Regions from separate parts of the Homo sapiens genome. Here region 2 is linked to region 1. Evidence: fine-mapped expression QTL. Tissue or cell type: whole blood. Region 1 holds a variant in brackets; the other region holds the start of a gene. All regions are shown on one strand. Distances are from middle to middle.

Region 1 (8,101 bases):
TGAGAATCTATTGGTTTGGAAAAGAAGATGATGAGTTTGCTTTGGAAAGGGTGAATTAGAAATTTGGGCCGGGCACGGTAGCTCAAGCCCGTAATCCCAGCACTTTGGGAGGCCAAGGTGGGCAGATCACGAGGTCAGGAAATCGAGACCATCCTGGCTAACACGGTGAAAACCTGTCTCTACTAAAAATACAAAAAAAAATTAGCTGGGCATGGTGGTGAGCACCTGTAGTCCCAGCTACTCGGGAGGCTGAGGCAGGAGAATGGTGTGTACCTGGGAGGTGGAGCTTGCAGTGAGCTGAGATTGCACCACTGCGCTCCAGCCTGGGCAACAGAGCAAGACTCCGCCTCAAAAAAAAAAAAAAAAGAAAAGAAATTTGGCAGAAACATTTAGACAAAGATGTCCTGTAGTCCATTCCTCCAAGACCTTTTCAGTGGGTCTGCAAAGTCAAAACAATATCCATAATAGTGCTAAAAAGTTATTTGCCTTTTCCACAGTGGTTCTCTCATGAAGGTACAGTGGAGTTTTCCAGAGGCTACAAGACAAGTGATTATATCAATCTCATGACTAATGGTATCTGTGCCTGAGTATTCCTGTGAAATTTTTTCAGTTTTAATTCCAGTATGGTAAATATCAATAGACATAATCTACAAAAAACAGACATTTTTGGAGGGTTCTCAATAATTTTTAAGATTGTAAAGGGGTCTTGGGACCACAAAGTTTCAGATGCTCTGCTAGTCAACAGTTTTCGACCTCTTTAACAATGTCTTACAAAGAGAAATCCATTTTACATTGTGACCCAGTATCCACGTATATATGCAGATGTGTAATTGAATAAGAGTCTCACAAAACGGTATTCTGGTGCACTATTTGGGATGCACCGGGTGTTTTCTATTTCGTCAAAAAAATTAAATTGCTGATAATGGCTCACTAAATTGATTTCATGACCTGCTAATGAATAATGACCTGCAACTTGAAAAACCCTGCTCTAGGGTATAGATGAGTGGAAATATGGAAGGAAGCTGGAGCATGAGGAGGAGCCATTCCCCACAGAATGTGGTATACACTTCATATTTGTGGAGGAAGTGGATGGATGCATGGTTCCTTGAGTTTCCAGTTCTCCAACTGTGTAACCTTTGCAAAAAGTTAGAATGTTATTGTGAGGATCAAATTTTAAAAATGCAGGTGAAGTCTCTTTGTATACCGTAAAATACTACACAGAGAAGAGGGATTGCTGTTAGAAGAAGATGATAGAAAGTCTAGGCCGGGCGTGGTGGCTCACGCCTGTAATTCCAGCACTTTTTGGGAGGCCAAGGCGGGCAGATCACCTGAGATTGGGAGTTCGAGGCCAGCCTGACCAACATGGAGTAACACCATCTCCACTAAAAATACAAAATTAGCCGGGTGTGGTGGCGCACACTGGTAATCTCAGCTTCTCGGGAGGCTGAGGCAGCAGAATCGCTTGAACCCAGGAGGCGGAGGTTGTGGTGAGCTGAGATTGCACCGTTGCACTCCAGCCTGGGCAACAAGAGCGAAACTCCGTCTCAAAAAAAAAAAAAAGAAAAGAAAAAAAAGAAATATCAACCCAGTTGTTTTCTTGACTTTGTTTTAGAATGAATCCCTTCTGCATCATCTAATACAAGGTTTATATATTCATCAAAACCAATGATACAGCCTTCTATCCGCATATTCACTTGCTCATAGAGCCATACCTGAATCCGGGATCTGTTTTGTAAATATCTGAAGAGAGGTTGATGGGCTGTACCATAACCTTCTGCACTTTCTGGCCCTGGCTGCGGTACACCGAAATGAAATCTCACAAAGAGGACACTGACCCACACGCTACCTCAGAGAGCAACTTCCAGAATAATAACTAACATTTCTTGAGTACTTACTGTTTGCCTGGTATGGTGCTAAACGTCAGTAATAGATGTTTAACTCATTTAATCCTTACCACGGTTTTATTGTGTGGGCACCGTCATGGATTGTCATTTACATACAAGGAAACTGAGGCTCAGAGAGCTAAGATAATTTACAAAGTTACGTAGTATAGTGGACTTTATTTTCTTTCTTTCTTTCTTTTTTTGTTTTGTTTTGTTTTGTTTTTTATAGATATGGGGTCTTGCTATGTTACCCAGGCTGGTTTTAAACTCCTAGGCTCAAGCGATCCTCCTGCCTCAGCCTCCCAAAGTGCTGAGGCACCATGCCCAGTCCCAGACTTCAAATTTTTGTTAGCTTGTTTTTCTATCCAGCATCTGATCTCTTTTCTTCTTTGAAGAACACCTGGATTTTCCTTAAGGGTCCATGCCTCCCACACATTCAGTCCACGAGGTTTGGGGAACTTGGCTTCACCTCCTGGATTCTAGGCTGCATATGTAAGTTTCCTACAACAATGGCAAAGAGGTATCTCTTTCCTCTGGGCTGGTAGCTATGAGGATATAACCCTGGAGCTACCGTAGCCACCTTGCCAATGCTGGGTGGGAGGTCACCTGAGGACAGATCAACGCAGAGCAGAGCTGCGATGTTGCAGGGTGGGAGGTGCAGGAGGGAGCAAAGGAGAGAGATAGAGAGAGCTGATGACAAACTTTGAGCTCTCAGATCCACCCTGAAGACAGATACCCATGAACTTTTTAGTTAGAAGAGCCAGGACATTCCCTTTTATGCTTAAGTCAGTTAATTTAATTTAGTTATTTAACAAACACTTATGCAGAACTTACTAAGTGCCAAGAACTATTGTAGGCACTATACAAATATCAACTAATTTAGTCTTCATGACAACCCTATGAAAGGAGGTAATATAATTATTTTCATTTTATTTATTTATTATTTATTTATTTATTTGATACAGAGTCTCTCTCTCCCTCTGTCACCCAGGCTGGAGTGCAGTGGTGTAATCATGGCTCTGCCACCTGGATCTCTTGGGGTCAAGCGATCGCTCCAACTTAGCCTCCTGAGTAGCTTAGGACTACAGGTGTGTGCTATGATGCCTGGCCTTTTTTTTTTTTAACTTTCTTTTTCTCTCT[T/C]TTTTTTTCTTTTTTTAGAAAAGGAGTCTCACAATGTTGCCCAGGCTGATCTCAAACTCCTGAGCTCAAGTGATCTTCTTGGCTTGCCCTCCCAAAAGATTACAAGCATGAGACAGTGCACCTGGCCATAATTTATTTTTTAAATTTTGTATAGAGACAAGGGTCTCGCTATGTTGCCAGGGCTGGTCTCGAACTCCTGGTCTCAAGCAATCCTCCTACCTTGGCCTTCCGAAGTGCTAGGATTACAAGCATGAGCCACCATGCCCAGCCTATTTTCATTTTAAAGATGAGAAAACTGAGGCACAGGGAAGCTAAATAACTTGCCTGGGTCTTTGTTGGGATGTTTACTTTTGGAAACTAGCCAGGATTTGCTCTCGTTCCAGATCCCAGGCGCTGAATCCTTTGCCAGTATTTCTTAAACGCTCCTCATTTACCTTCCATCTTTATCATTATGACCATAGTCACAGACCTTCTACCAGGGCATCCAATCTTTTGGCTTCCTGGGCCATACTGGAAGAAGAAGAATTGTCTTGGGCCACACTAACTAAACTAAACACTAACTAAAATACACTAATGATAGCTGATGAGCTTAAAAAACAAAAACAAAAACAAAAAACTGTCACCCAAGCTGGAATGCGGTGGTGTGATCTCAACTCACTGCAATCTCTGCCCCCTGGGTTCAAGTGATTCTCCTGCCTCAGCCTCCCGAGTAGCTGGGATTACAGGCGCCTGCCACTGCACTTGGCTATTTTTTGTATGTTTAGTAGAGACGGGGTTTCACCATCTTGGCCAGGCTGGTCTCGAACTCCTGACCTCGTGATCCGCCTGCCTTGGCCTCCCAAAGTGCTGGGATTACAGGCATGAGCTACCGTGCCTGGCCTAAAATCTCATAATATTTTAAGAAAATTTATGAATTTGTGTTGGGCCGCATTCAAAGCCATTGTGGGCCGTATGCAGCTCACAGGACACAGGTCGCAAGTTGTACAAGTTATTGTTTTTTTTGAGACAGAGTCTCGCTGTGTTGCCCAGGCTGGAGTGCAGTGGCTCAATATCAGCTCATTGCAACCTCCGCCTCCCAGGTTCAAGCGATTCTCCTGCCTCAGCCTCCTAAGTAGCTGGGATTACAGGCACCCACCATCACGCCCGGCTAATTTTTGTATTTTTAGTTGAGATGGGGTTTCACCATGTTGGCCAGGCTGATCTCGAACTCCTGACCTCAGGTGATCCACCCGTCATGGCCTCTCAAAGTACTGGGATTACAGGCATGAGCCACCGCACCTGGCCTGACATTAACTTTTTTTTTTTTTTTTACTTTATTAAAATATTGAGTTTTATTTCACAGGCATATTTTTGTCTTCCCACAATTTCCATGTCTGACCACCGCTACTACTATGTCCTATCATAACATTCCATACATATTTAAAACCAAGCAAAGGGTGAGTTCCATCTTTAAAAACTAAACAGGCATTTTGGACAACACATTCTTGGCAATGGAACCTGGACAACATTTATCAAACACGGTAGGGAAAGTTCTCACTCTGCATTATAAAAAGGACAGCCATGTGACTTTATAGCAGCATGCTGCTATAAAGTCACATGCACACGTATGTTTATTGTGGCACTATTCACAACAGCAAAGACTTGGAACCAACCCAAATGTCCAACAATGATAAACTGGATTAAGAAAATCTGGCACATATACACCACGGAATACTATGCAGCAATAAAAAATGATGAGTTCATGTCCTTTGTAGGGACATGGATGAAGCTGGAAACCATCATTCTCAGCAAACTATCGCAGGGACAAAAAACCAAGCACCGCATGTTCTCACTCATAGGTGGGAATTGAACAATGAGAACACATGGACGCAGGAAGGGGAACGTCACACACTGGGGACTGTGGTGGGGTGGGGGCAGGGGGGAGGGATAGCATTAGGAGATATACCTAATGCTAAATGACGAGGTAATGGGTGCAGCACACCAACATGGCACATGTATACATATGTAACAAACCTGCACGTTGTGCACATGTACCCTAAAACTTAAAGTATAATAGTAATAAAATTAAAAAAAACTTTAATGGAAAAAAAGATTTTATTCAAATTAAGTGAAATATTTTCTGTATAAAATAAATTTTGCAATTGCCAAACAAAAGTAAAAAAAAAAAAAAAGGACAGCCAGATATCAACTGTTACAGAAATGAAATATGATGGAAAATTTTTAACAAATTGTTGAAACTATTTTCTTAAGGAGACTTCCTCCACTGCCAGAGATCTTGAATAGCCTCTTGGTCAGTCATCCAGAAGCAATTCTTCACAAAATTGATGAACTCGGCTTCCACTTTGGGAAGAGAACCCCCTTTTTCTATACTTGCTTGCATTTTTGCTTTAATGTCTTCTACAGAACTAGATCCTTTTGGTGTTTTAGGAGTTTTTTCCTGTGTTTTGAAGGATTCTTGTCCTTTTGATCTTGGTGCTGATGATGGTTTTGAGTCTTTTCCATTCTGATTTGACTTGTGTGCATTTTTGGCTGGAGTATCTCATATAGATTTCTTCACTGGCACTTTTTCTTCAGCTTCCTCATCATCAAAATCATCATCATCATCATCATCATCATCATCATCATCTTCATCAACAGCAAGTTTTACTTTTTTCTGTGGAACCTTGCTACCACCTCCAGGGGCAGACCGCTTTCCAGATATACTTAAGAGTTTCACATCCTCCTCCTCTTCATCTTCTGACTCTGCATCTTCCTCCACAGCTACTAAGTGCTGTCCACTAATATGCACTGGCCCTGAACCACACTTAAATCTTAAGACCACTGGTGGTGTTATTTCAAAGCCCCCAAGGGAAACTGTTGGCTGTGCAGACATTTTCAAAGTTGCCAGTGTTACTTTAATTGGACTGCCTTTGTAATTCATTGCCTCTGCTTCAACAATGTGCAATTCATCCTTTGTACCAGCCCCTAAACTGACCGTTCTTAAAGATAACTGGTGCTCATTTTCATCATTATCCACCTTAAAGTGATCATCTTTGTCAGCCTTTAGTTCACAACCGAAAAGATAGTTCTGGGGCCTCAGGGGGCTCATGTCCATGTCCATCGAATCTTCTATTGGGTGGCGGCACACACTTAGGTGGGACAGAAGGCAGACGGAGATAAATGAACGCTGCTCAAGAGAACAGCCGCTCAGGATGGAATCATACCAGGAGACATTAACTATTAACATGTAAAATGTTTATCCATGTGACACCTAAAATTGCTGTGAGTAGTCCTGCCCCACTGTGTTGCCTTCCACTTCATGTCACTGATGCTTAGTTTCTTCGTCTTTATAGGGCTAAGCATACGTCCCTCACAGGACTGTTGTTTGAAACAAATGAGGAAAGAACTGAGGCATCGCTTTGTCGCTTATAAAGCATTAAATAGAAGGGAGGCACCATAGCTGTTAAGATGATACACTTCCTCAGCCCAAGAATGAGGATGTTGGTTTTTGACCTCGTAAGCCTCATTTTCTACCAGTCTCCTCTTGGCTAGCCTTACCAGGCTTCTTTTCTGTCTTAGGGTGGGCCCTGCCTTCTCTCACCGGAAGATTTTTGCTGAAGCATTCTCCCACACTGAAACACTCTTCCCTCTGTGGTAGATTGTGCTTTCCTAAAACGGCCATGGCAATATTTCTGCTATTCCAGAATCTTGCCGCTTCCTCATCAAGAGATGGAGTCTGTTTTTGTTTCCCCTCCCCTTGAAATGGAATGGGACTCTTATTGACCGCCTCAACAACTAGAATGCAGGAGACAGAATGCCGAGTGACTACTGAAGTTGGGTCATAAAAGGTGATACTACTTCTGCCTGAGTCTCTTTCTTGGGATGTTTGCCCTTGGAACCTAGTCCTGTGCTGAGGAAGCCCAAACTGGCCCACGTGGAGCGATCACTCAAAGAAGCCCACGTGCAGAGGAGCTGAGGCCCCTAGCCAACAGCGGACATCAACCACCACCTTTAGATGATTCCAGGTTTCTGCCTTTAAGTGCTCCAGATAGTCCCCAGACACTGGTGCAGAGATAAGCCACCTGTGGTGTCTTGCCTGAATTCCTGACCCAGGGAACTCGTGATTGTAATAAACGGCTGTTTTATGCCAATAAGCATTGGAGAAATTTGGTATGCACCCATTATAACTAGAACACTTCCTCTCTTTGCCTGGCTGAGTCCTAAGTATCCTGCAGCTCTCAGCTAAAATGCTTCTTCTTTAGGAAGGCCTTTCTTTTTTTTTTTTTTAGATGGAGTCTCACTCTGTCACCCAGGCTGGAGTGCAGGGGTGCGATCTTGGCTCACCACAACCTCTGCCTCCCGGGTTCAAGCAATTCTCCTGCCTCAGCCTCCCGAGTAGCTGGGATTACAGGCACCCGCCACCATGCCCCGTTAAATTTTTTTTTTTTTTTGTATTTTTAGTAGAGATGGGTTGCACCATTTGGCCAGGCTGGTTTCGAACTCCTGACCTCAAGTGATCCACCCATCTTCGCCTCCCAAAATGCTAGGATTACAGACATGAGCCACCGTGCCTGGCCAGGAAGGCCTTTCTTGAACAGGGCTAGGTTGGTTCCCTAGTCATAATCTCTCACAGTGTCCTCTACTTCCCTTTTGTAACACTTACCACATCTGTTGTGATGTTTTTCCCCACTATCTGCTTTGCCATACTCTGAGCCCCATGAAGGCCACGACCAGGTCTGCCTATAGAATCTCCAGCAGCTAGCCTGGTAGATACGTGTGCATGGGATGCTCTCAGTAAATACTTACGAAGTGAGTGGACGAATGCTTTGCCCCACAGTGCCTGGCACAAATGCTCGGATGCAGCAAGAGATGGACCCATCCTTGAGGGTTTGGGAATTATTTCTGAAAATATTCCTAGCCGGGAGTGGTGGCTCTCGCCTGTAATCCCAGCACTTTGGGAGGCCGAGGCGGGCAGATCACCTGCGGTCAGGAGTTCAAGACCAGCCTGGCCAACATGGTGAAACCCCGTCTCTACTAAAAATACGAAGATTAGCCGGGCATGGTGGCGCACGCCTGTAGTCCCAGCTGCTCCAGAGGCT
Region 2 (8,101 bases), 130 kb before region 1:
CCACCACGCCAGGCTAATTTTTTATATTTTGTAGGAATGGGGTCTCACTGTGTTGTCCAGGCTGGTCTTGAATTCCTGGGCTCAAGCAATCCTCCCGTCTCAGCCTCTCAAAGTGCTAGGATTACAGGCGTTGCCACTATCTCTGGCCAATTCCTCTTAAATCAGTGAAGTAGGACTCCTTAGCCCCATTTTACAGACGACGAGCATGGTGCTCAAGGAGGTCAGGTGAGTTGCCAAGGCTACGTAGCTAGGAAGTGTCTGTCCCCAAACATTGCTTGTAACGCCCATGCTCTTCTACAACTGTGCTCTTCCAGGAAGAAGTACCAGCATAGGCATAGAAGTGAAGAGTGGGTTCAGGGACTGGGGAGCACCTGAGTGGCTGGAGGGGTCACTTTGTGTCTGTGTGTCGGGTCGGAGTTATGGTGAAAGAGGAGATGGTGGGGGCTGGCAAGGACCGACCAGGGAGGCCCAGTGGACCATGCCTAGGAGCTTGCCCTTGATACTGGGGAGCCAGGGGAAGTTTTCAGCGGGGATATTAAGGACGGATCTGGCCAGGCACGGTGGCTCGCGTCTGTAATCCCAGCACTTTGGGAGGCTGAGGCGGGTGGATCATCTGAGATCAGAGGTTCAAGACCAGCTTGGCCAACATGGCGAAAACCCATCTCTACTAAAAATACAAAAATTAGCTGGGCATGGTGGCATGTGCCTATAATCCCAGCTATTTGGGAGGCTGTGGCAGGAGAATCGCTTGAACCCGGAGGGGTGGAGGTTGCAGTGAGCCAAGATTGTGCCACTTCACTCCAGCCTGGGCGAAAAAATGAAACTCTGTCTCAAGAAAAAAAAAAAAAAGCAGACAGATCTGGGGAGCACCAGCTGCAGGAGGTGGGCCCAAGAGGCAAGCCTGGAGGCAGGGAGGCTGGCGAGAAAGCTGGTGCAGTCACCCCTGGAGAAGTGATGAGCTGTGAGCTGGCCAAGGCCAGAGGAGACTGAAGGGCAAAACCAAGAACCACGCAGACATCTGACAGGCAGTGGTGTCGGTAGGGAGCAGGATGGGGGCCACTCAAGCCTCTTGGTGCTCCCCGGCCAGGGTCTGCCCTGCCTTACCTGACCCGCCCCTCCTCCAGCTGGCGCAGGCGGGCATCTCGTTGGAGGACGCCAGCAATGGCCTCCTGCTCCTCCTCTGTCAGGAAGCTGAGGTCCAACAGTCCTTCAGTCTCAGGCTTTGGCCCATGCGCCATGGGGAGGGAGGGCAGAGCCCAAAGCCCCTCTTGCGATGGGTGGCCCCTCTGGGGCATCAGCTGGGGCTGTGCCCCAGCTGGGCACACGGAGCTTCCTGGGGGCAGACCGAGGGTCAGGTCAAGCCCTGCACAAATGCTTGGCACATCCTAGAACCAACAGCCCTTTTCTCCCCAAACACTTGGCCGGGTATGGGTAGGGTGCCACCCCAGGATGGCTGAGCTCAAGGTGGGGTGAGAGACACTCATGCACACATGCATACACTAGCCCTTGAACACACTTGGAGACACAGTGGAAGAAGCAAGAGACACACATGCACACACCCTGAGGTAGGGCCACACAGGACTGCAGCGATGGAACACACAGACACATGTGCACACGCGGGTCCATGTAGGCATAGATATGGTCGCACATGCACACAGACACCTGCATAAAGACAGGCGCATGCACAGCTGTTCCCCCAGAAAGGGCCCTCTGCAGACACAGACCCGGACCCATGCCCACGAGAGACATGCACACACATTCTTTTTTTTTTTTTTTTTTTTTTTTTTGAGGAGTCTTGCTTTGTTGCCCAGGCTGGAGTACAGTGGCACGATCTCATCTCACTGCAACCACTGCCTGACGGGTTCAAACCTCCTGCCTCAGCCTCCTGAGTAGCTGGGATTATAGGCACGCACCATCACGCCCAGCTAATTTTTGTATTTTTAGTAGAGACGGGGTTTGACCATGTTGGCCAGGCTGGCCTCGAACTCCTGACCTCATGATCTGCCAGCCTCAGCCTCCCAAAGTGCTGGGAGTACAGGCGTGAGCCACCACGCCCGGCCCTACACATGTTCTTAAATCTGCACACAGTGGCCAGGCGCGGTGGCTCACGCCTGTAATCCCAACACTTTGGGAGGCCAAGGTGGGCCGATCACCTGAGGTCAGGAGTTCAAGACCAGCCTGGCCAACATGGTGAAACCCCCTTCTCTACTAAAAATACAAAAATTATGGCCAGATACAGTGGCTCACCCCTGTAATCCCAGCACTTTGGGATGCCAAGGCGGGCAGATCACCTGAGGTCAGGAGTTTGAGACCAGCCTGACCAACACGGAGAAACCCCGTCTCTACTAAAAATACAAAATTAGCCGGGCATGGTGGTGCATGCCTTTAATCCCAGCTACTCGGGAGGCTGAGGTGGGAGAATTGCTTGAAACTGGGAGGCAGAGGTTATGGTAAACCGAGATCACACCATTGCACTCCAGCCTGGGCAAAAAGAGTGAAACTCCTCCAAAAAAAATGAAAAGAACAGAACAATTAGCTGGGCATGGTGGTACATGCCTGTAATTCCAGCTACTTGGGAAGCGAGGCAGGAGAATCACTTGAACCCAAGAGAAGGAGGTTGCAGTGAGCTGAGATGGCGCCACTGCACTCCAGCCTGGGCAAGAGTGAGACTCCGTCTCAAAACAAAAACTAACAAAAAAACCTGCACACAGCATATGCACACCAATGGGGATAGGCCCACCCGGATGGGTTCACCTAGACAAGAACAAGTCTGGGGACAAATATGTCCCTCGATAAAGATGTACATAAAAATCATACAGACTTTGGCACACATACATTGCCCGGCTAACTGGGTTGTGAGCTCCTTGGAGGCAGGGAGAGGGAGTCACCCTCAAAGCCATTACTTTGCACACAACAGATGGTTGGTAAAAGTTTGATTAATTAAATGCAGAAATATGCCTGCACACACATGGGAATGCACACATACAACCACCCACCTAGACAGACAGATACACACACACACACACGTACACACACACACATCTGCTCACTCCCCCGCACCAGGAACCTCACAGCCTGGGTCCCCTCCTGCCACCACCTCCACCCTGCCCTGGCCCACTTGGCCTTCCTGTCTGAGGCAACCTCCTCCTCAGCCCACACCCCCAACTTCCTCTCCTGAGGTAACTGCCGCACCCACTCCCACGGAGGCCTCCAACCCAGGGATGCCCCCGCCGCCAGCCCTGCCCTGTTGCCTGGAGCCACAGGGCCCCTCTGTTCTGGCCACACAGTTCTCCCCAGACCAGGCTGGGGTCCCGGCGGTGGAGGCCTAGGCTAGCGCAGCAGCCCATGCTCAGGTACCACAGTGACTCCGGAAAGAAAGCATTTGCCCAGCGCTGAGGGGCATGTAGACGTGGCAAGGGGCCCATGACTTGGTCAGGGCTGTGTCCTGAGCCCACTGGGCGGCCTCTCCTCTCTTCCCCGCCCCTTCCATTGCCACGGCTCCAGGTGGGGCTGAGACCGGCGGAGGCAGCTTGGCGGGCAGGTCCTGGCTTGTGTCCGCCGCCTGCTATGCTCTGTCCCCTCCCAGCTGAGTCAGTGGCCGAGCCCCAGCGATCCCTCTTGACACCCTCAGGAGCAGAAGGCCTCAGCACGGCTGCACGGTGTGCATTCACTCTGTGGATACCTGTGTGCTCCACAACAGCAGTTTCCCTGGACTTCTGTGGCCAACGTGTGAGCCCACGTTCGGCCTCCCCTGTGGATTGGGGTGTGAGCCCACGTTCGGCCTCCCCTGTGGATTGGGGTGTGAGCCCACGTCCCTCTCTGTGCCCTGTTGTGTGGCTGTGTGGGTCCGAGTCTGGTGGGCATGTCTGCGTTGCGTGAGTCTGTGAGCTGTGTAGTTGCTGTGTGTCTTTGTGTCCTGTTGCAGTGTGATGCTGCATGGTGACTATATTGTCTGTGTGGTGTGTTCAGTGACTTTCTAGGTGACAGCGCCGTGTGGGGTGTGTACAGTATGCATTGTGCATTTCCTCCTGTGCTGTATGTGTGACTGGGCTGTGTGCTGTGGGGTGTCCCCTGGTGCCTTGGGGGCCACCAGGTGTGTGTGTCTGAGTGTGGATGGAGGCCGGGGGGACGTTCGGCAGAACTGAGCCTATTTCTGTCCTTCAGGCCTGCCTGAGCTGGGCCATGGGCATCAGCCCAGCGTCCTCAGCAGTGCCCCCTCCCTGAAGTCCCCTCTCCTACCAACCAGAGGCAGAATCTCCTACCAGAGTTAGGTAGGAGTTTGGTCTTCTCTGCTGTTTTGACACGGTGGGACAGACCCATTGGTCAAGAGGAGGGTCTGTCCATCTGTCCAGCTGTTCCAGTTCCAGACATGTGCCCACCTCCCCCAACCCCAAGGTGCTGGAGGGTGCTCAGGATACCAGGTGGCAGTGCCTGCGTCTCTGGACCCTGGCAGGGGACCCTGGCACCGACACGTGTTACCTGTAGGGGTCCAGTATGGGAGGACACCTTCGCAGGTGGCTCCAGCTCCCCTGGCAGCCGAGTTTCAGGGACCGGGAGAAGAGCCGTGAGGGAAGAAGGCTGACTCAACAGGCAGCCCAGCCAGCAGCTGCCCCACACGGAGGAGGAGGAAACACCTCGGCAGGGCCTGATGCAAAACCGGGCCTGGACTCCCAGCGCCCGGGGGTGCGCCCCCGCAGCCGACTGGAGAGGCCCAGCTTGGCCCCAGCTCCACTGAGCAGGCCCTCTAGAACGGGTAGCAGCCCCACCTTGCCCACAACGGGGCTGATAGGAACTCGCTTTGAAAGCAAGTTAGAAACCTTTCTTTTCCAGCCCCAAGGGGAATGGCAGGATGGCAGACTTTGCAGTTAGACCACCCTGTGCAGAGTCCCTGCTCTGCCAGTGGGTGTGTGATGTGACCTTAAGCAGGTCTCTTCCATTTCTTCTGATGCAAACTGTGGGTAGCAGAGTGCAAGGAGCCTATACTAAGGGAAGTGAAAGTGCCCGGTGCGAGCTGGCATAGTCGGGGTGAGGTGTCCCCACTCCAGCATAGCCTAATGCCCACGGCCATCTCAGCAGCTGCTGCCCTCTATATCCACATGCACTTCTGGGACATGCTGGCAGAGCAGCCCTCTCTGTCCCCTCTGCTGTCCTGAGCCCCATCTGTTTGAGGAGGCCTGAACTCTTCTAGTGCCAAGGTGAGGGTCCCACACCCTCTGTCTATGTGGAGCCCCCCTGAACTCACCCCATTCTACACCTAGATTCTGCCCACCCTGAGATTAGAAGGTTTGGGCCCTAGATTACATTGGCTTCAGGACCATGAACCTCCTGGGTTGTCTTGGGCACAAGAGGCCACACCAAAGCTTTCTGACTCCCCCCAAGTCCACTTCACTTCCCATGGCCTGCCCTGGCCCAACCCCCTCCCCTGAACCTAGGGCCATGGATTAAAGATTAGTGGGCTCCTCATAGACCCCTGGGAGAGGCAGGACAAGGGGTGGATTCTAAACAAAACCAGTCTGGGCACAGTGACTCATGCCTGTAATCCCAGTACTTTAAGAGGTCGAGGTGGGCGGATCACTCTAGGACAGGAGTTTGAGACCAGTCTGGCTAATATAGTGAAACCCCGTCTCTACTCAAAATACAAAAATTAACCGGGCATGGTGGCAGGTGCTTGCAGTCCCAGTTACTCGGGAGGCCGAGGCAGGAGAATCGCTTGAACCCAGGAGGCGGAGGTTGCAGTGAGCCGAGATCGCACCACTGCACTCCAGCCTGGGCAACACAGCGAGACTCCGTCTCAGAAAAGCAAACAAGGCTGGGCGTGGTAGCTTACACCTGTAATCCCAGCACTTTGGGAGGCCGAGACGGGTGGATCACGAGGTCAGGAGATCAAGACCATCCTGGCTAACACGGTGAAAACCCATCTCTACTAAAAATACAAAAAAAATTAGCTGGGCGTGGTGGCGGCTGCCTGTAGTCCCAGCTATTTCCCGAGTAGCTGAGGCAGGAGAATGGCATGAACCTGGGAGGTGGAGCTTGCAGTGAGCCGAGATCGCACCACTGCACTCCAGCCTGGGCGACAGAGCGAGACTCCGTCACAAAAAAAAAAAGAAAAGAAAAGAAAAGAAAACTAAACACCCACTCTTCCTTCCTGTAATCAGAACCGACTCCCACCACCACTGAGAGACAGAGGACCCTCCTCCACCTCAGAACCACAGTGGAGGCTTCCCTACTTATTTTTTGCAAATTAATCTTATTTTTCTCATCTGTTAAATGGGGGTAATCTCTCCTTAGAGGGTTTTCACTAAAATTCAGTGAGATCCTTGCAGACTTTTTTTTTTCTTTTTTTTAGATGGAGTCTTGCTCTGTCGCCCAGGCTGGCTTGGCTCACTGCAGCCTCCGCCTCCTGGGTTCAAGTGATTCTCATGCCTCAGCCTCCCGAGTAGCTGGCACTACAGGCGCCCGCCACCACGCCTGGCTAATTTTTGTATTTTGAGTAGAGATGGGGTTTCACCATGTTGGACAGGCTGGGCTCGAACTCCTGGTCTCATGTGATCTGCCTGCCTCAGCCTCCCAAAGTGCTAGGACTACAGGCGTGAGCCACCTTGCCCAGACCCCAGTACTCTTGATTAATGCATTTATGCACCCACACATGCAATACCCATGGAGCAGCTGCTGTGGGACCATTACTGTGATGCTGCCTCCTTCATTAAGGCCCTCAAAATGGAAGGAGAGTGGCCAAGAACATCCACACCCCTTCCTGCCATCCTGGTCCTGGCGCCCCCAAGGATGTTTCTCTGCCCTCCTCTCACCTCCTTAGCAGCTCTTCCTCCTGGAAGGCATGAAACTTCATTATCTGGTCTTCGGGTTTCTAAATTTCCCTTCCTTTCTCTGCTCTCCTGTCCTTCCTATAGCTGTGACTCCCTGACGCTGATACTTCCAGCCATCTCTCCTGCTGTGTCTCAACCTGCATTCCTCTGGCCTCTTCCCCACTTGAAACCTATTTCCAAGTTTCCACCTCTGTAACCAGCCCCCATCATCCTGGCCCCTGGCCTCCTGCTGCTTCCTGCCACCTCCAGATGCTGTCCACACTTCACTCCAGGTGCCCTCCCATCTGTGTGTCTCTGCTGTCCTCCCCCTGCCCAGGTCTCAGTCCCCGCTCAGCCTCTTCTGGAAGCCTCCTCTTCTCCTGCCTCCTTGCGGCCACACAAGGCCACTCTGGCCCTATGTTGCACAACTTTCAAACGTACTTTTCTTTGTCATCCTCTGGTTTGGAAGGTGCCAGCAGACAGCCAGGCCATCCCTCGGGCCCATTCATACATTTCTAAACCAGTCCAGTCCCCTTTAGACACGTCCTGAGATGGAAGTCTCACCACTTCCCAGGACAGCCTGGCCCTCAGCCTGACCCTCAGGATTGCTGCCCTTACTCTGGCTTTCTCCCCTTCGTCACCTATACCCGTAGAGCCTTAGCTGTGGGCTATTTCCTGTCCTTCAACACCCCTGGGCCTTCTGTGCTCCCTGTGGGAATACTTTTCCCCAGCTCCAGGACTAGCTCAGCCTCCTCCAGAGTTCAGTGCCCCTGCGCTGCAGCCAGTCTCTAGGCAACATCCCTCTGTTAAGAGGGACATTAAGAGGCAGGGTCCTAGAGGCCAGCAGATCTGGGTTAAAATCTGGCTCTGCCGCATGGTTCCCTGTGGCCTGGGATCAATGACAATCCCTGTAAGCCTCACTCTCTTCCTTTATGAAGTGGGGACAATAGCCATCTCACAGGCCTGCTGCTGTCAGGAGAGCTTGTTTTTCACCTCCGCGGCCATTCTCCTTTCGCATCACAGCACCTCTCATTTCCACTCCTGTGCTCCAGTGAGGCCATCGCACAGGGTGGCTCTGAGTGGGGGCTCTGGAGCCCAGCTGCTGGGTTTGAACCATAGTTCCACTCTTCCTACCTCTGTGACCCGGAGCAAATCACTACTTCTCTGCTTACTTCTTCATCTGTAAAATGGGATGATGGCACTTACCTTGTTGCAGGGCTGTTGTGAGGCTAAGATGGTATTTTATTACAAGGCCTAGCACAGAGTAAGCACTCGCTAACTGTTGGTGACTTTTTTTT

Evidence for each region. PIP is the estimated chance that this variant, and not a neighbour inherited with it, causes the effect.
Region 2: SYTL1 starts here. The variant in region 1 is fine-mapped to the expression of SYTL1 in whole blood (TOPMed, PIP above 0.99).

Annotation. Positions count from the first base shown.
Region 1 is chr1:27,204,964-27,213,064 of GRCh38, reverse strand. It overlaps the pseudogene NPM1P39 and the pseudogene SNRPEP7. Among named protein-coding and RNA genes, the nearest start is that of WDTC1-DT, 25 kb to the left of the region's middle. The variant T/C (reference allele first, on the strand shown) is at 3,024.
Region 2 is chr1:27,338,529-27,346,629 of GRCh38, reverse strand. SYTL1 (synaptotagmin like 1) reads right to left here and starts at 4,608. Exons shown (of 15, transcript NM_001193308.2): 1 at 4,480-4,608; 2 at 1,105-1,333. The coding sequence starts at 1,295. RefSeq lists enhancers at 3,268-3,357, 3,356-3,973, 4,148-4,197, 4,728-4,987.